2 separate regions of the Homo sapiens genome follow, and region 1 is linked to region 2. Evidence: fine-mapped expression QTL. A gene starts in region 2. The other region holds a variant in brackets. All regions are shown on one strand. Distances are from middle to middle. Region 1 overlaps PPP3CC (protein phosphatase 3 catalytic subunit gamma). Region 2 holds the start of SORBS3 (sorbin and SH3 domain containing 3).

The links.
Region 1: its variant is fine-mapped to the expression of SORBS3 in whole blood (INTERVAL, PIP 0.92).

What each region holds. Positions count from the first base shown.
Region 1 is chr8:22,521,491-22,529,818 of GRCh38, forward strand. PPP3CC (protein phosphatase 3 catalytic subunit gamma) reads left to right here. Exons shown (of 14, transcript NM_005605.5): 7 at 1,001-1,078; 8 at 1,165-1,259; 9 at 5,902-6,027; 10 at 7,016-7,087. The region is part of intron 1 of LOC124901905 (a long non-coding RNA gene); the gene reads right to left. Among named protein-coding and RNA genes, the nearest start is that of SORBS3, 26 kb to the right of the region's middle. The variant CTCTCTCTT/C (reference allele first, on the strand shown) is at 4,062.
Region 2 is chr8:22,548,061-22,556,388 of GRCh38, forward strand. It overlaps SORBS3 (sorbin and SH3 domain containing 3), which reads left to right and starts at 3,867. Exons shown (of 21, transcript NM_005775.5): 1 at 3,867-3,962; 2 at 6,392-6,548; 3 at 6,803-6,920. The coding sequence starts at 6,447. LOC124901905 (a long non-coding RNA gene) reads right to left here and starts at 6,065. Exons shown (of 2, transcript XR_007060851.1): 1 at 4,102-6,065. RefSeq lists enhancers at 1,006-1,506, 2,832-3,796, 4,020-4,897, 4,705-4,754, 4,898-5,773 and 1 more and silencers at 3,185-3,314, 3,625-3,804, 3,955-4,034.

The DNA of each region.
Region 1 (8,328 bases), 27 kb before region 2:
AGTCTTGGGCTCCACCAAGGTTTCATAACCACCTACCTCAATCCTAAGGTTCTTACAATGGCACTTATGGCCATGGATGGCTTCCAAACTATTGTTTCTGTAGGAGGACCAGGGCTGGGGACATTCTCTTTTGCTATCTTGCTTACGTCACCTACAACCTACTTTAAAAGTAAATTTGTTCTAATGAGCATAATGAGAAACAAAGATTTTAAAAATAAACTAAATAATTAATGCCTAAGTAATTCCAGGTTAATTTTGTATACTCCAGTTCTTCCTATCAGGTATTTGTCATTCAGAGAGGTAATAGTATGAAAAGAATATTTTAGGAGTATATGAGAATATTGTATCTTTTTTTAGAATATGGTTGGCTAAAATATTTACATCTGCTCCTAAAATATTCCTGCATAAGCTTGCAGTGAGCCGAGATTGCACCACTGCACTCCAGCCTGGGCGACAGAGCAAGACTCCGTCTCAAAAAAAAAAACAAACCTATATATATACATATATATGTATATATGTATTCCTGCATAATATTATCTTGGTGTTTATATTACCTGTGAAGCTGTAAGTATATTCTTTTATTTCTGTAACAATTTGACAATTGAAGAAAAGTATGTGTTGAATTTTTAGCATCTACTACACACACACGCACACACACACACACACACACACTACTGTTGTACTTTGTAATATCAAGACACTGATAAAAGTTTTGGTGTTGTATTGTTATGGATTAAGACAAAAAAATTAAAAGATGAGATGGAGGAGCTCTTTCTATTGTAGGATTATCTATTGTTTTCATGTTTGATCTGTAGTGAAGTATATTAGTGAAATAGAGAAACAGAATGATGAGTACTAAGCTATTCATAAAATTTCAGTAGTGTGTAATACTTGTAGTTTTGAAACAAAATCAGCTAATATCACCTTGACTTTTCCCCATCTTCCTATTAAAAAAAATTGTTTTAATTCTGGATTTATGTTTTCTAATTTTCTTTTCCAGTTACCCTGCAGTTTGTGAATTTTTGCAGAACAATAATTTACTATCAATTATCAGAGCCCATGAAGCCCAAGATGCTGGGTAAGTTACATTAAAATTGTACCAAATATCGCTGCAGAGTCTTTGCATTTAATATGCAGACAGATGGACTTTCATCTCTTTTTCAGGTATCGAATGTACAGGAAGAGCCAAGCCACAGGCTTTCCATCACTTATTACAATTTTCTCTGCCCCCAATTACCTAGATGTCTATAACAATAAAGGTAAAGGAATCCAGCAATATTTGAGTTTGAATTTATGAGTAAACGTGAGCTCTGGTTTAATTGTATGTACGTATGTGTGTTTGTGTCATTTTAAAACATAAATTTTAAATAAGAAAAAAAGGGGTCTTAGTTGAAACAAAGGCCAAGAAATTTAGAATTTATGCTGCTGCTTGGTCTTTATCTCCTAAGGATTACTGGCTTCTTTGTGAGTATAAATAATGATCATAATAGGTCAGATTGATACTACAGAATCAAAGTATAAGAAGAATAAATTGCTTCAGGCTCATGCCAGAATAGTTAGCATAAATTATTGGTTTTGGTGAATTTAATGTGTTTATAACAGTATCTCAAAGTCACCATTGGTATTTTAATCTTTGTGAATTATTAAACTATTTTTGTTTTTCTTGAGATATGGTCTAGGTAGAGTGACCTAGTGTACAAAGTCAAAAAAAAACCTTCATTTTTAGTTTAAACCCTGCCAGAAACGAATACTGTGACTTTGAGTGAGTCACATTATCTTTCTAATCTTCAGTTTCCCATATGAAAAAAGAAGAATGGATATATACATGCCTTTTGTTCCAGAAATTTTACTTCTAAGACTTTATCCTGTTAAAGTCTTTTTTTTAATTTAAAACTTTTATGATTAATAGTTTATAAGTTTTCTATCGAGGCAGTGGTCCTACTAAAAACTTCATATTTCTGTAACTATTTTGTTGTTTATAAAGTATGACTATAAATTAATAGGACTTTGAAAATAAACATGCCAGAACAAACATATCCAAATGAGTATTGTCCCTTCAAAGTAGTTACCTTGGGAGGCTACACACCTATTCCAACAATGCTGTCCTTGTTCAAAAACATTTTTGGAACTCCTCTTTTGGCATTGCCTTCAGAGTCTGCGACACATTCTTTTGATTATCCTCAATGATGGGAAATCTTCGTCCTTTGAGGGTGGATTTGATTTTTGGACAGCCAAAAGTCATTCGGAGTCAAGACTGATAAATAAGGTGAGTGATCAAGCTAGATGATACCATTTGGGGTCAGAAACAAGGTATGATTATAAGGTAATGAGACTGGTTTTTCTCGTGTTGCTGATACAGTGGCTCTGGAGGCACTTCCAAAAGAGGAGTTCCAAAAACGTTTTGAGTAATGGCAGCATCTCTGGATTAATTATATGGTAAGGCAACAAGTTGTGCTGAAAAGAACACAAAGCAAGGAGTCAGTCTAGTCCTGCTTCACTTTTAAGTGTGTCACATTTAACAAGATACTTCTCTGAGCCTCATCTTTAAAATATCTGTCATATGGGGTTGTTGAAGATAAGTTGGAATAAGGAAAATGGATATTAAAGTGTTGTTCAAAATATAAATTACTATAATAATACAGATTTTACTGTTATTGTACCTGATGTGATAATATCAAAGGACCACACTCATCTGATAAAAAGGTCTGGTGTGTTTGTAGCTGGTGGTTTCTTAAGTCTCATTACTTTATAGTTATACCTTGTATATGCAGTTGGGGAGATAAGTTTCAAAGATGGCCAAAATATAATTAATATTTACTCTATTTAAAAGTAAACCATGGAATGGCACATCTCATTTAAATCCGATTTGGGTCAGTCATTTTAGTGTGTCCTCCAGTGACTTGTCTATTTTAAAAAGCATGTCTTTAACTTAAGTTCTGTCCTAGTCTTATGTTTTCATTTAACTTAGCATTCTTCTCTGAGCCTTATCTGTCCTACAATGCTCTGCTTCTCCCTAAGTTCATTTGTTATTTCCTTTTTCCTGATATTTCCAGTATATTAGCAACTTAGGTTTTATTCTTATTTATTCTCTTATCAATGGTGTGGACTGTTTGTGTTGTTAAACGTCTTCAAGGACTCTTGTGGCCCTAGATCTCCTATTTGTAATGAAGGTGTTTCTTTCTCACTTTCTTTTTTAACTTCATCAAAAAGAGTATCTATTGATTGCTCAATGGATTTATCAGTGTGCCAAGCTGAAACACGCCACCTAAGTCAGCAGGCACTATACAGCTCACTCACTGCTAGCTTGTTTTTTGTCTCAATCTAACCTGGTTTTGTTCTTGATTATTTCTTTAGCAAACTTTTAACATCACAGTCCTGGCCAGGCACAGTGGCTCATGCCTGTAATCTCAGCACTTTGGGAGGCCAAGGGGAGGATCACTTGAGGCCTAGAATTCAAGACCAGCCTGGGCAGCAAAATGTGACCCCATCTTTACAAAGAAAAATTTAAAAGTTAGCCAGGCAAGGTGGAGCATGCCTATAGTCCTAGCTACTCAGGAGGCTGAGGCAGTAGGATCCTTTGAGTCCAGTAGTTCGAGGCTGCAGTGAGCTGTGATCACACCACTGCATTCCAGCCAGGCAATAGAGCAAGACCCTGTCTCTAAAAAATAAAAAAAAAAGTAAAAGCCACAGTTCATTCTACCTGAGTATTCTGTCGGCTTTGACATAATTAGTAACTTTTATCTCAAAACAGTCTTATTTTCATTGGTTGTTTCTTAGGCATTTTAGAAGGAAAAAGGCAGAAAATGTGGCATTTGAAACAGTCCCTGGGGGTACTCAGTTACTCCCCATACAAGTGCCTTCTTTTCTGAAAAAGGGAACTCTATTATTCTTTTTCTTCTTCCTTTTCTTCTACTGTTGCTCTTCTTTCTCTTTCTCTCTTTTCTTTTCTCTCTCTTTCTCTCTCTCTTTCTTTTCTTTCTTTTTCTTTCTGCTTCCTTTTCTTCTTTCTTTCTTTCTTTCTTTCTTTCTTTCTTTCTTTCTTTCTTTCTCTCCCTCTCTCT[CTCTCTCTT/C]TCTTTCTCTCTCTCTCTCTTTCTCTCGGTCTCTGTCACTTAGGTTGGAGCACAGTGGCAGGAACTTGATTCACTGCAGCCTCGACTTCCTGGGCTCAAGTGATCCTCCCACCTCAGCCTCCCAACTAGCTGGGACCACAGGTGCATGCCGCTACACCTGGCTAATTTTAAAATATTTTTTATAGAGATAGGGTCTCGTTATGTTGCCCAGACTGGTCTCAAACTCCTGAGCTTAAGCAGTCCTCCTGCCTCGGCCTCCCAAAGTGCTGGTATTACAAGTGTGTGCCACCACACCTGGCCTCTTTCATATTATTTTTTTTTTTTCAGAGACAGAGTCTCACTGTGTTGCCCAGGCTGGAGTGCAGTGGTGCGGTCTTGGCTCACTACAACCTCTGCCTCCCGGGTTCAAGCAATTCTCCCGCCTCAGCCTCCCGAGTAGCTGGGACTACAGGTGCACGTCGCCACGCCTGGCTAATTTTTTTTATTTTAGTAGAGACGGGGTTTTACCATGTTGCCCAGGCTGGTCTCAATCTCCTGAGCTCAGGCAATCTGCCCACCTCGGCCTCCCAAAGTGCTAGGAGTGCTCTTTCATATTCTTTAGACTTCTTGGTATCTACAGGTATTTCCTAGTTCCACTAGTTACACGAAAGACCTTTAATCATGATTTTTAAAGATTCTTATTCTTGTTTTCTTCTGTCCACTGGGAACACACCCAAAAGCAGTTTTATAAGCTCTTGTTTCCAGTCATTCACTGTTGAGACTCACCTCCCACTTCTTTTTCCTGGGTAGAAATTGAGGGAGTTGTTGAATAATGATATATGACATATTTACCTAAACTAAATAAAATACATACACGTGAAAATAATGGAACATGTACATCATAGCCAGTGTTAGGCTTTTTAAGTGCTAGAAACTATATTTTAATTTATTTTCTTAATAATATATGGTGTACATTTTAGACATTCAATAACTTAAATTTTAAGAACACTAGATTATCCTGTAGCAAAGAAACAGGAATGAGGACGTGACCTATATCTGTCATTTCTGGAGAACTGTTACACCCTGTTTTATTTTATGACCACAGAATAATTAAGAGAATAGTGCAAACAACATTGCTGGTGATAAAGGCTAAGGAATTGGATTTTAAGACTTTCAAAATATAAAGAAAATCAGTTTGGCATCAAAGTATGTGTGCGACTATCTGAATGGTTAATATTAAACATAGCATGCTGGCAATACACTGCTGTGTATTGGAGAAATCGGCAATTTTAAAATCCGCTATATTGAATACAGAGATGACTTAATCTAATTTTGAACATTTAATTGTAAATTGCTCCAAGTTTGCCATTTGTATCTTCCAGTATGAGTTGATAACTGCAATATATAAACTCCCAGAGAGTGTATACAATCTTTGACTCTGGCTAATGACTAGCAAAACAGGCTGTGTCCATTTAATGAGTAATTTTTGCCTTCAAAGGAGAGTTGTAATTATAACCATTTGGCCTATAAAAGGAAATTATGGGGAAATTTTCCTCACGTGGATCTTGAGGTTTATATAGATAGTTACTGTGCAGTGACTCCAAAGTTTCAGTTTCTTTTGTACTTTTATTATATGAGCTCTTCAGGTAACTTTGTTCCTTGGAATAATTCTTAAGAGAATGAACTGAATAAAAGGCTTTAAAATTTTCCATCTGCCCTTTACCTAGTCAAGTCCTGACTTTACAAATGGAAAGTTCTCGAATTCTGTGTAGCAGGTACACAGCTGTACAAAGCATACCACTTGCCATGCCATGTTCCTCTGTGCCAGATTTTCTTGCTTTTTTCCTTTTTAGCTGCTGTGTTGAAATATGAAAACAATGTCATGAATATCAGGCAGTTTAACTGTTCTCCACACCCCTACTGGCTTCCAAACTTTATGGATGTTTTCACATGGTCTTTGCCTTTTGTTGGGGAAAAAGGTAAGAGAACTAAAGCACATGTCTCATCAGTTGTTTGGTGACTGAGCATACCTTATATTTGCATGAGCCCCTCCATGATTCAGAAATGTTTTCTAATTTTGTTTGTTCTCTACATAGATTTTTTTTTTTTTTTTCTGAGATGGAGTCTCGCTCTGTCACCCAGGCTGGAGTGCAGTGGCACGATCTCAGCTAACTACAACCTCCGCCTCCCAGGTTCAAGCAATTCTCCTGCCTCAGCCTTCTGAGGAGCTGGGATTATAGGCACGTGCCACTGCACCCGGCTAATTTTTGCATTTTAGTAGAGACAGGGTTTCACCATATTGGCCAGGCTGGTCTCAAACTCCTGACCTTAAGTGATCCGCCCTCCTCAGCCTCCCAAAGTGCTGGGATTACAGGTGTGAGCCACCGTGCCCAGCCTCTACATAGATTTGTAAATGGCATGTAATTGGTTCTTAAATTTTAATATATTATGGTTTTTTTATTGTAAATATCAATTTAAAGTAGCTGACCTACTATGATCAAGATGTTAAAATAACATAGTTACTTGTCATTCCCTCAGATTTCTTCAGTACTGAAGAGATTTAAACAGAATTTATTGTCCTTACAATTTTATTTGTACAGCTACTCAAATTAGCTAAGCCTGTTGGACGTAGGCCTGTTGGCTTAACTTTGTAAAGTGGGAAAAAAATTTTCTCACGTGTGTATCAGTGTGGGAAGAAGCTCTGAACAGCAATCCGGTAAAATCAAGTAATTAGGCAATAGATCTTCAAAGACTCCAGACTTTTACTGGAGCAAGTAATCTACCCAAATTCTTTTTAAACCTGAAAGTTTACATTTATGCTACTTTTTATAGCTATTCTTACTAACATAATGATAAATAATTTTTGCTTATGCTTACTTAACATGTGTGTTTATTTAGATATCCACATTATTTTAGAGAAAGTACCTCATTAATCGCGTAAATTTTGGATTATTTTGTCTTACTTAGTCACAGAGATGCTGGTAAATGTGCTCAACATATGCTCTGATGACGAACTGATTTCTGATGATGAAGCAGAAGGTAAACTTTTCCTCCTTTGAACTAAAACTAGAAAGAGGTTTGGTTTTGGTTTTAGTTGTTTTAGTTTATTTTGAATGATTTTCTTTGTCTTATTAAAAATAAAGTTAGTTCATTGTAGAAAAATAAAATTTGAAAAATACGAGAAACCATAAATAAGGAAAAAAAGTCACCCATAATCCCATCATCTTATAGATATCCACAGTTAACATCTTAATGTATACTGTGTTAATTGTCTTTTATCTTTGCACATAGCTTTCCTCTGTAGTACACTATTTTTGTGGAGTTTCTTTGTAGACTAGTTTCTAATGGATCTGTAGTTGTCCATGTTGATCAGTGTTGTAACTAATCCCGGTGGTGTTGGTTATTGGAGTTTTTCCCAAGTTTTTGCCGACAAAACCCATATAGTTTTGAACATTTGTTTAGATAAAAATGTGCACATTCTCTTAACCAATATTTATTACATGCTTGATATATACCAAGTACTGTATTGTTTAGGTCCTTGCTCTCAATAAGCTTATTTGCTAGTGTAGGGAGGAAAAACAGTAAATAAATATGTCAGATGAAAGGAAGTAAAGCAATATTAGAAAATCAGGAATAACACTTCTTGATTATTTCCATAGGATGAATTTGTAGAAATTGAATATCTGTGTCAATTAGTACTTAAAATTACAATTCTGATACAGATAGAAATTTCTGATACAGCCTCTAGAAAGGCTGTACCACTTTACATTTTGCAGGATGCATAGTCACAGTGCTGTCTCCAATACTGTTTATGATACTTGTTATAGTCTGGTGTTACTAAGTTTTTAATTAAATTTTTAGTTTATATTTTTATGAGACTAATGGACAATTTTTTCTTGTGTTTGTTGGCAATGTTTATCTCTCTTTTGTGACTTGTCAATTCATATCTTCTATCCTTTTTTTGAGACAGAGTGTTGTTCTGTCACCCAGGCTGGAGTGCAGTGGCGCGATCTCTGCTCACTGCAACCTTCACCTCCCGAGTTCAAGCGATTCTCCTGCCTTAGCCTCACGAGTAGCTGGGATTATAGGCGCGTGCCACCATGACCAGCTAATTTTTGTATTTTTAGTATAGATGGGGTTTCGCCATGTTGCCCAGGCTAGTCTGGAACTCCTGAGCTCAAAGTGGTCTGCCTGCCTCGGTCTCCCAAAGAGCTGGGATTAACAAGCATGAGCCACCATGCCCAGCCCCATTTTGATTTTTTTCTTATTGGTGTGTGAGG
Region 2 (8,328 bases):
CTGTCAGGCCCCAATACCCATCATACTTGACCTGTACTGGGTATTTTTTCACTCAGATCCCTCACTCTACAGTGACTCTACCAGAAATCTTGAATTCCAGATGAGCCACGTCATGCCATTGTCAGCATAGGAGGCCCTTTGAAGCCCCAAAATGGGTCATTTGCACTCCCTTCTTCTGCCTGCTCCTGTTCCCATGAGTGGTTGGCATGGAAAGGGCCATCAGTAGAACTTGGCTGGCAACATTTGCAGGAGCAGGAATCAACAGAGGACCCAGGAGAAAGGGATGGAGCCCAGGGCATGAAACATAGTCCAGATTCCTGCTGGTATGTCCATGTGACTTGGTTTCAATTCCTCACCATTGTGTCACTGTGGCCTTCTAGAGAAGTCCAAACTGCTGGAAACGGGCAGTGCTTTCTGCGCTAACCCCTTCTGGTCTGACTGCTCAGCTTAGAGGAAGGAAGAAAACACTCAGAATTCTGAGAGCAAAACCCCCCAAAAAATCTACTCAAAGCACCTGAAGTTCATCCCTGGGGAGGAGAAGAAAGGAAGAGCAGATGCCCTGTATCTCCATGGGGGTACTGAGGCACAGAGCTAGGGCCGCCTAGCTGCCCAGGGTAGATCTCAGAGGGTGACTCATCTGAATTGCCGATTCCCAGCACCAGAGCAAGGCGCTCCTCAAGAACTGAGTCCGGGTTCATGTCTTCTGGGACCCCTGGCTTCCCTTTTCCCACTTGAGAACTAAAACTGGGTGCTCTGCCCACCCCGCTCACCCCGCCTTCACTTCAGTGCTCTTTCCCCTCATTTGTCATCCTTGGTGACAGAGATTGCTTTTCAGAGTGACCCGCATTCCACCGCCTTCTCCCCCTCCCTGTGAAGAGCCACATTTACTGGTAGTCCCGTGGCTAATCCTCCCCTGCAGGGGGGTGGGGGTTGTGGACAGACCCCTGTTGACGGTGATGTTGGGGACTACCCACAGAACAAAAGGTGCAGCCTCAAGGGCTTGAGCGGGGAATACTGATGCCTGGGATCAGGTAGCTGGGAAAACAGGGCAGTTATGTAACTGTGTTTACTGTGGCTCAGGTGGCTCTGAGAAGGCAGAGGCAGCCCCTGACAAAGGGCAGTGCCAGAGGTGGGGAAGCCGCGACTTGCAGGGAGGGAGGCCCCTCTTAGACAGGGGAGTCGTGCATGCAAAGGAGAGAGTGCAGTGGGATTTGGAAAGGAAAGGAATCTGTTCTGTTGTTGACAGCCAGCCGGCCAGCCGCCTTATCTAGGACAATCTTCCCAGCCTCAGCCTCTCCCTAACCGTGCCAGCTGTGGAGGCAGCAAGGGGAGCTGACGCTAGAGGGAGGCGTCGGGAAATCAGACACCTGGTTCCTGGCTCAATCTCCAAACCCTGCTACTTTTCCCCCCTTAATCTACTTTTCAAAGAGAAGGAATTCTTCTCTTTAGATAAGGGCAGAAAGGGAGGAATCAGTCAAATTTCCTTATGTTTTCCCTGCCCTGTGGCCCACTGTCTCCCATCCTCTCGGCTGTGAGGCCAGATGGGCACCACGGAACATGGTGGATTCTGACCTGAGAGAGGTGATAAACCCGGCAGAGCCCAGGCCTAAGTAGACAGGCAGAAGTCAAAGCGGCTCAGGAAGAAAGCTCAGGTCTCCCGTAGACCTACCCCGCCTCCTCCTGCAAAGCTGTTTACTCAACGCCCGATTCCCATAGAGATGAAACTGGTAGCCAGTCCCCAGCTCCTTACCCATGGCTGCCACCTCCCTTTGTGAGAAACAGGAAGTGGGGAACTTTGTCAGCTCTGCTGCACCCTCTACACTAAATATTTATCTTGGAGTCCAGGTCAGAGCCCTAGAGAATAAGAGAAGCTTGCTGCTGGTGAGGGGGTATGGCCAGGATTCCTGGAGTCGGAAGAGCTTCAGCTTCACCATCTTGGGAGAAGAAGGAAGAAAGTGAAAGCGATGTGGTCCTTCTTAGTCCCAAGGACCCTGACAGGTGGGAAAAATGCGTGTCTAAGAAAATGGGCACCTATTTTATCCCTGAGGGAGGGAAGAGGCTACCTGGCGTGGATAAGAAGGTTTCTAAGCTTCAGGTTGGGGGGCAGTGCACTGCTGCGTCCCTCAAGAAGTGTCCCAGGGTTCCCCCACTGCTCAGCTGTCCTCCACAGCAATGCCCCTGCCATCCCCATCTCTCCGCCTTCCTGGAGAGTCAGAGGTTCTTGGAAGGAGTCTTCAAGGTCATCTTGTTCAGCTCCCCGCTCAGTGCAACAGTTGCCTTTACATAGATGCCCCACAACTGGCAGACTCAGAACCCCTGGAATCATGTAAAAATTTGTCCTGGGAAGCCTTGGACCTGCTTCCCTATGACGTGTCCCCCAGTGGTCCCACTGCTGCTGGTGCAGCTGTGTGTCCACATGGCAGCCCCGCAGGCGCTAGAGGCCAGCAGGCCTATCTGAAGCTTCTCAACCCAAACATCTCCTCCAGCTTTCACATGTGATGTTTCAAGGCAACGGGGAGAGCTTCTTTACCAGAACGAGGGAGAAGATAAGACTAAAGCAGTAATGGTGGTAGGGACTGAAAATCACTTAGTCTTTTCTCTACTCTCTTTCTTTCCAAACTTTGAGTTGAGTGGTGAGCTTGGAAAACACTCCAAAACTCCTCGTGGCCTCTGGCACCAGTCTGACACCCAGTAGGAATGCAGGAGATTACGTTAGTTTTCATAATTTAGCATTGATCACTCCCAGCTCGTAGCTAAAGTTGATCAGTAACTGTTGGTTGGTTGGCTGGTTTGGGGCTTGGGGATCCCTGAGCCAACTCAAGGGCCAGAAAGGATTCCAGAGTGTTTCCACGGTCCTTCAATGTTCCTTAAGCATTCCCACTTTCTGAAGTGCCATACAGAGGCTTGGGGCAGAGACAGGGAGAGGGGATGACCAGAATGGATGGGGAGCCGGAAGGGCCGGGGCTCTGGGGACCCAGCTCAGAGCAGCGAGAACAGCGGAAAAGCAGGCAGATCAAAACAAACACAGTGTCTGGGAACACCAAGACCCTCCTAATCCCATCCCCGCCAAAGGGACCCCACCCTTATCCTCTTTAGGGGCGCGGCACGCCCGGGGGGGCCGCTCCCTTGGGCTGATTTCCTCCCTGTGCTTGCACGTGTGTGAGCGTCCCCACGTTTGCAGTGTACGCGCGCGTGTTTGTTTGCACACGACCGGCCGCGCGCCGCCGCAGGCACACCCTCTCCCCCAGCGCGGAGGGGCGGCGGGGCCTTCCCCTGGTCCGCTCCGCCACTCTGCCTGCGGGGCGCCCTCATCTCGCTCCCGGCCTGTCCGTCTCTCCCGGCTTGCCCAGTTCACCACTCCTGCCCCCTTGTCCTGGCTCCGCCCGGTTCATCGCTCCTGCCCCTGTCCTGGCTCCGCTGCGAGGCCGCTCGCTTCCCACACTCTGGAAATGTCGCTGGAAACTCTGAGTGGCCCGTGTCGGGCCGCCCGACCCCTCCCCGACGCCAGCCCTGCGGTAGGGGCCGGGATGGCAGCTGGGAAACCAGAGAGGGCTCCCCGGGGACCCTCGGCGGCCCCTCCCGGCGCCGCCTCCCCGCCGGCCAGGCCTCCTCGGCAGGGGGCCACCAGTGTCCCCGCGCGCGCCCCGACGGACGGAGAGCACTCGCACGTCCCTCCTCTCCGGCCCAGCCCCGGCCCGCAGTCCAGATCCGAGACCCAAACTCCGCCCGCCCCGCCGCGCGACTCTCACGGTCCGGCCTCCGGCGCGCGCCCCTTCGGCCTCCCTCTTCCTGCGCCGGCGCCCGGCCCGGCCCGGCCCGTCCTGACCCGGTCACGAGGGCCGCGACGGCCCGCGCTTCTCCTTGCCCTTCCTCCTCGAGCGCCCGCGCCAGGCAGCAGCCGGGCAGGGATGCTCCTGCGCTCCCGGGCGGCCTCGGGCCCAGCCACCTGCTCGCCGGGGAAGGTAGGTCCGGGCAAGGAGGGGCGGGGAGTAGGCGAGGCCGGCGGGAGGGATCCGTGCCCAACCCCAGGGAATCGCACCTAGCCCCTCCCCGGGGTCCGCGTCCCAAACTCTGGGAAGTACCTCCCACCAGCCCTCATACCAGAAAAAGCGAAATTCAAGAAAAGCTGTCCTTGTCCACGTGGCCTTGTCGCTGAGAAATACCTGGGAAAGCTCTTAGGGCCAGGCACCCAAGGTCAGGGCAGTGTTCAGAGCAGGGAGGCCAGTGCCCACCCCAGCAGAGCCGCCTCCCCTCTCCCGCTCCAGGGGCCTCTCCCCGCTCCCGGGGCTGGCTGCCTGCCTGGAGGGGAGGTCTGAATTCTGGGAGGACCCCTCCGCTCTCTGCTACATGGGGGACCAGTCCCCAGATGCTGCCCTCTTCCTTGTAAGTCCTCCCTAAGTCTCCTGACCTGGCTGCCAAGAGAAGGACTCGGACCACCCTTCCCTGGAGGTTCCTGTGGTGGGGGGCGACACAAGGGGCAGGGTTGAGAAGGGGCAGATGGGGGCACCAAGGGTAAGCAACCTCTGACTACGGGTCGTGGGGGACCTCCTGCCCTACCCATCCTCCAAGAGAGCAGTTCTCACCGAGCACGAGGTGGGCGGGGAGGTCAGGGAAGGAAGGCGCTGTCAGCTGATGGCCCAGGCGGCAGCTGCTGAGCTGCAATTTGGCCCGAAGCAGTCAGCTGGGCAGGGAGGGGTGCTGCGAGGAGCCGACCAGCTCCAGGTCTCCTGACCTTCCACCCCACCCTGCCTCAACTCCCCCCCGCAAGGGGAGGTGGAGTGTGGGGACTGGGGTGTGTCTGCCTGTTTTGCTTTGGTGGGAGTCCTAATTGGACCCAGCTGGGGAGCTGCTCCTCCTCCAGCCTCAGCCCTCCACTCCCCCCAGTCAGGCATGGGCACAGAAGAGCTGTGTCGCAGCAACTCAAATGTCAGGAGTCCCCACAAACTCAAACCAGAGACAAGGAGCTGCCCCCAGCCTTGGCTACACCCTCGCTAGCCCTGGGCAGGAGCTGGGTCCAGGGGCTGAGTCATCCCAGCCTTATTCTACCTTCATCCCCTCTGGGCCCCCAACTCTTCCACTGCTCACATGACTGCACCTCCCACCACTGTTCAGCTGACACCCCTCTGTACCCACAACCCCCATGCAGCTCATGTGGTCCCTCCGGTGGTCCCCCCAGAAGTCATATTCGCAGCTCTGCACCCAGATTCCAACACACACATACACACAGCTCCTCCCGATGCATTTGCAGCCCTCCCTGAGAGCCCCCAAGGACCCCACAGGCACAGGCAAACCTGATTCCATCCAGTCCTGGGCAGTGGCAGAGCTTGGCTGTTTCTGGTCCAGTCCAGCAGCCAAGACGCGGAGGGATGGACGCCGTAGCACCGTGCTCTGGGTCAAAAAGCCCCCTTGGACACCCCAAACTGGGAGCCCCTTTTTGTCCTCTTGCACCCCCACTCTGGGCTCCCCTCTTGCCCCTCCATTCCCTGGGTGCCTAGGGCTCCCTTCCCCTTCCCCAGCCTTGGGATGAGGCAGAAGAAGCTGGCTGTGGGCAGGCATGGTGCTGCCAGGGAAGACCCTGCACTCACAAAACAGCCTGGAGGGGCGGGAGAAAGTGGAGCCAGGGAGCGCGTGTATGTGCGTGCACATTTGCCCACATGCAGAACACCCCAGGGCACTCAGCACCAACTCTCCATGGGCATGAGCAGGTTCAGCTCTGCCCTCACCCACCGCTTCTGTCTCCACCCACCCGGAGCCCTCTGAGTCCTCATTCTGTGAAGGAGGCCAAAGAAGGGCCCGATGCTCCCTGTGAGCTCGCAAGAGTGGGTCTTGCTGCCTGGAAATGCCCCCGACGCTCCCCTTGGCCCTATTGGGCTTAAGGCCCTGCTGACTGCTTCCTGGAGGGCAGTGGGCGGGTGGCTGAGTAATCCCTTGTGCCCGCAGGCAAGAGATGCCCACACGGCCTGGGGGAGGCAGAGGGAACTGAAACAAAGTCCTGTGTTCCCAGGCCCCCTCTCTGCCGGCTGCCCCACTTCCCCTGCGCCTTCCCTCCGGGGGAGTGGGGAAGCCAGCTGCACCCGTGCAGGGAGAGCCCCACGGGCTCCTGGCCAGCCCCTCCCCTCCTCCTCACCCAAGCTCCCCCTCCCCCACTCCCACCCGGAGCTCCTGCCCTGGGCCTAACAAGTGGTCCATTGTGCCCCTGGGAGCCGGCAGGCACGGGCAGCCTGCAGGCGGGTGCCTGGCGTGGCCTGTTTCCTGGGTCCTTGAGCTAGTACCCAGCTGGTCCTGACCCCCTCCCACAGCCGGCCCCTCCTCCCCTATCCCAGGGTCGAGCCAAGAGGGCATGGGCAGCCTAGCCTAGCAGGGCTTTCCCTTCCTTCCTCCTTCCCCACAGAGGACACGCAGAGGAGCAGCTGGCTTGCCCGGAGTCCTCCCACCTTGACCCAAGCATGCAGGGCCCACCCCGCAGCCTCCGCGCTGGGCTCAGCCTGGACGACTTCATCCCTGGCCACCTCCAGTCCCACATAGGGTCTTCCTCCCGGGGGACACGGGTGAGTGAGTCAGTAGGGAGGAGGGTGTCCTGCGGGCCCGGAGTTGGTTGGGACGCTAGCAGGTCAGGTGGGGGCAGGAGGATGAAAGGGATGGAGGGAGGGCTGAAGAGAGCTCTGGGGGGCCTCGCTGGTTTCCCACAAAATCGTCAGGCGGGCCTGGGACTGTCACCGAGGGGTGTGGGCTGTGCCTAGTAGCCATCCCTCCCTCCCGCCCTGCTGGGCCCTGAGCTGCCGCTCCTGGCCCCTCCCCGCAGGTGCCCGTGATCCGGAATGGTGGCTCCAACACCCTTAATTTCCAGTTCCACGACCCCGCGCCCAGGACTGTGTGCAATGGGGGCTACACACCAAGACGAGATGCTTCCCAGCACCCGGGTAGGTCTGCTCAGGAGCCTCATGCTGGAGATGGAGGGTCAGGGCCCTGCCATCTGGCACTGCCCTGTGTCAAGCGGGAGGGGCAGCAGCTGGAGATGGGGTTCTCAAGGCCATGAGGAGGTTCCTCAGAGGCCTCTGGGCTCACTATGAGCCCCTCCCTGCGGAGCCTGCTGACTCTGCAAGAGACACCCGCTTGGGGAGAGCAGGCTGATGCATCCCTTCCCCTGCCCTCCAGCCTGGTGCCAGGGAAAGGAAGCGTGCAGGAGCCCTGGGCGCCGGAGGACCTCCCACAGGGACTGGGGATGGAAGGGTGGAGGTGATGTGGGTATCTGTTGGCTTGGGAAGGGGTGGAGACTGTCCCATTCAGGCCCAACAGGCTACCCAGCAGGAGGTTAGAGAGGCAGTTCTAGATCCCAGTCCAGAGGTCCTGGGAACTCCTGGGTGCAGGCCAGCCCTGAACATGTCTCTCCTAAAGTGACATCCTTTATCAAGCATTCCCCTAAGACAGGTGCTGTGTAAAGGAATTTATTCATTTAACAATTATCCAGCCTGGGCAACATAGCAAGACCCTGTCTCTATCAGCCTGGATGACACAGCAAGACCCTGTCACTTAAAACACACACACACTGAGAGGCTGAGGTGTGTGGATGACCTGAGGTCAGGAGTTCGAGACCAGCCTGGCCAACATGGTGAAACCCCATCTCTAATAAAAATACAAAAATTTGCTGGGTGTGGTGGCGGGTGCCTGAAATCCCAGCTACTTGGGAGGTTGAGGCAGGAGAATCACTTGAACCTGGGAGGTGGAGGTTGCAGTGAGCTGAGATCGTGCCACTGCACTCCAGCCTGGGCAACAAGAGCAAAACTGTCTCAAAACAAAAACAAAAACAAAACAAAACCAAAAAAAACACCCACACAATTATGGAACACCCAGAGCGTGCTGGACACTGTAAAAACACTTTACGAGGCTCACCTCGTTTAACCCCTCGATATCCTGACAAAGTAGGGGTGATGATGACTGACAGCTTCCCAGTAAGGAACCCCATTCGCAGAGATGTTCAGCCATAGAGGCTGAGCTGCAATTCACACACTTGTACATCTGGCCTCAAAGCCCTTATTCTGCTGCCCTAGCTACTTAGAGGCTAACACTTATGGGTAAGTTGAGGACTCAGTCACAACCATGTCTGGGGAATGGGTTTCTGACCTTCACTGAGAGCCTCTCGACTGTGTGCCAGGCACTGTGCTGGGTACAGTCACACACGCTAGATGTCACTGAATCCTTGTCACAATGACCCTTGTTTTACAGAAGTGGAAACTGAGACACTGAGAAGGTGACTGATGTACCCCAGGCCATGGCAGCCAATAGGTGGTAGAGCTGGGGTCTGAATTCAAGTCTGTCCCCTCTAAGCCC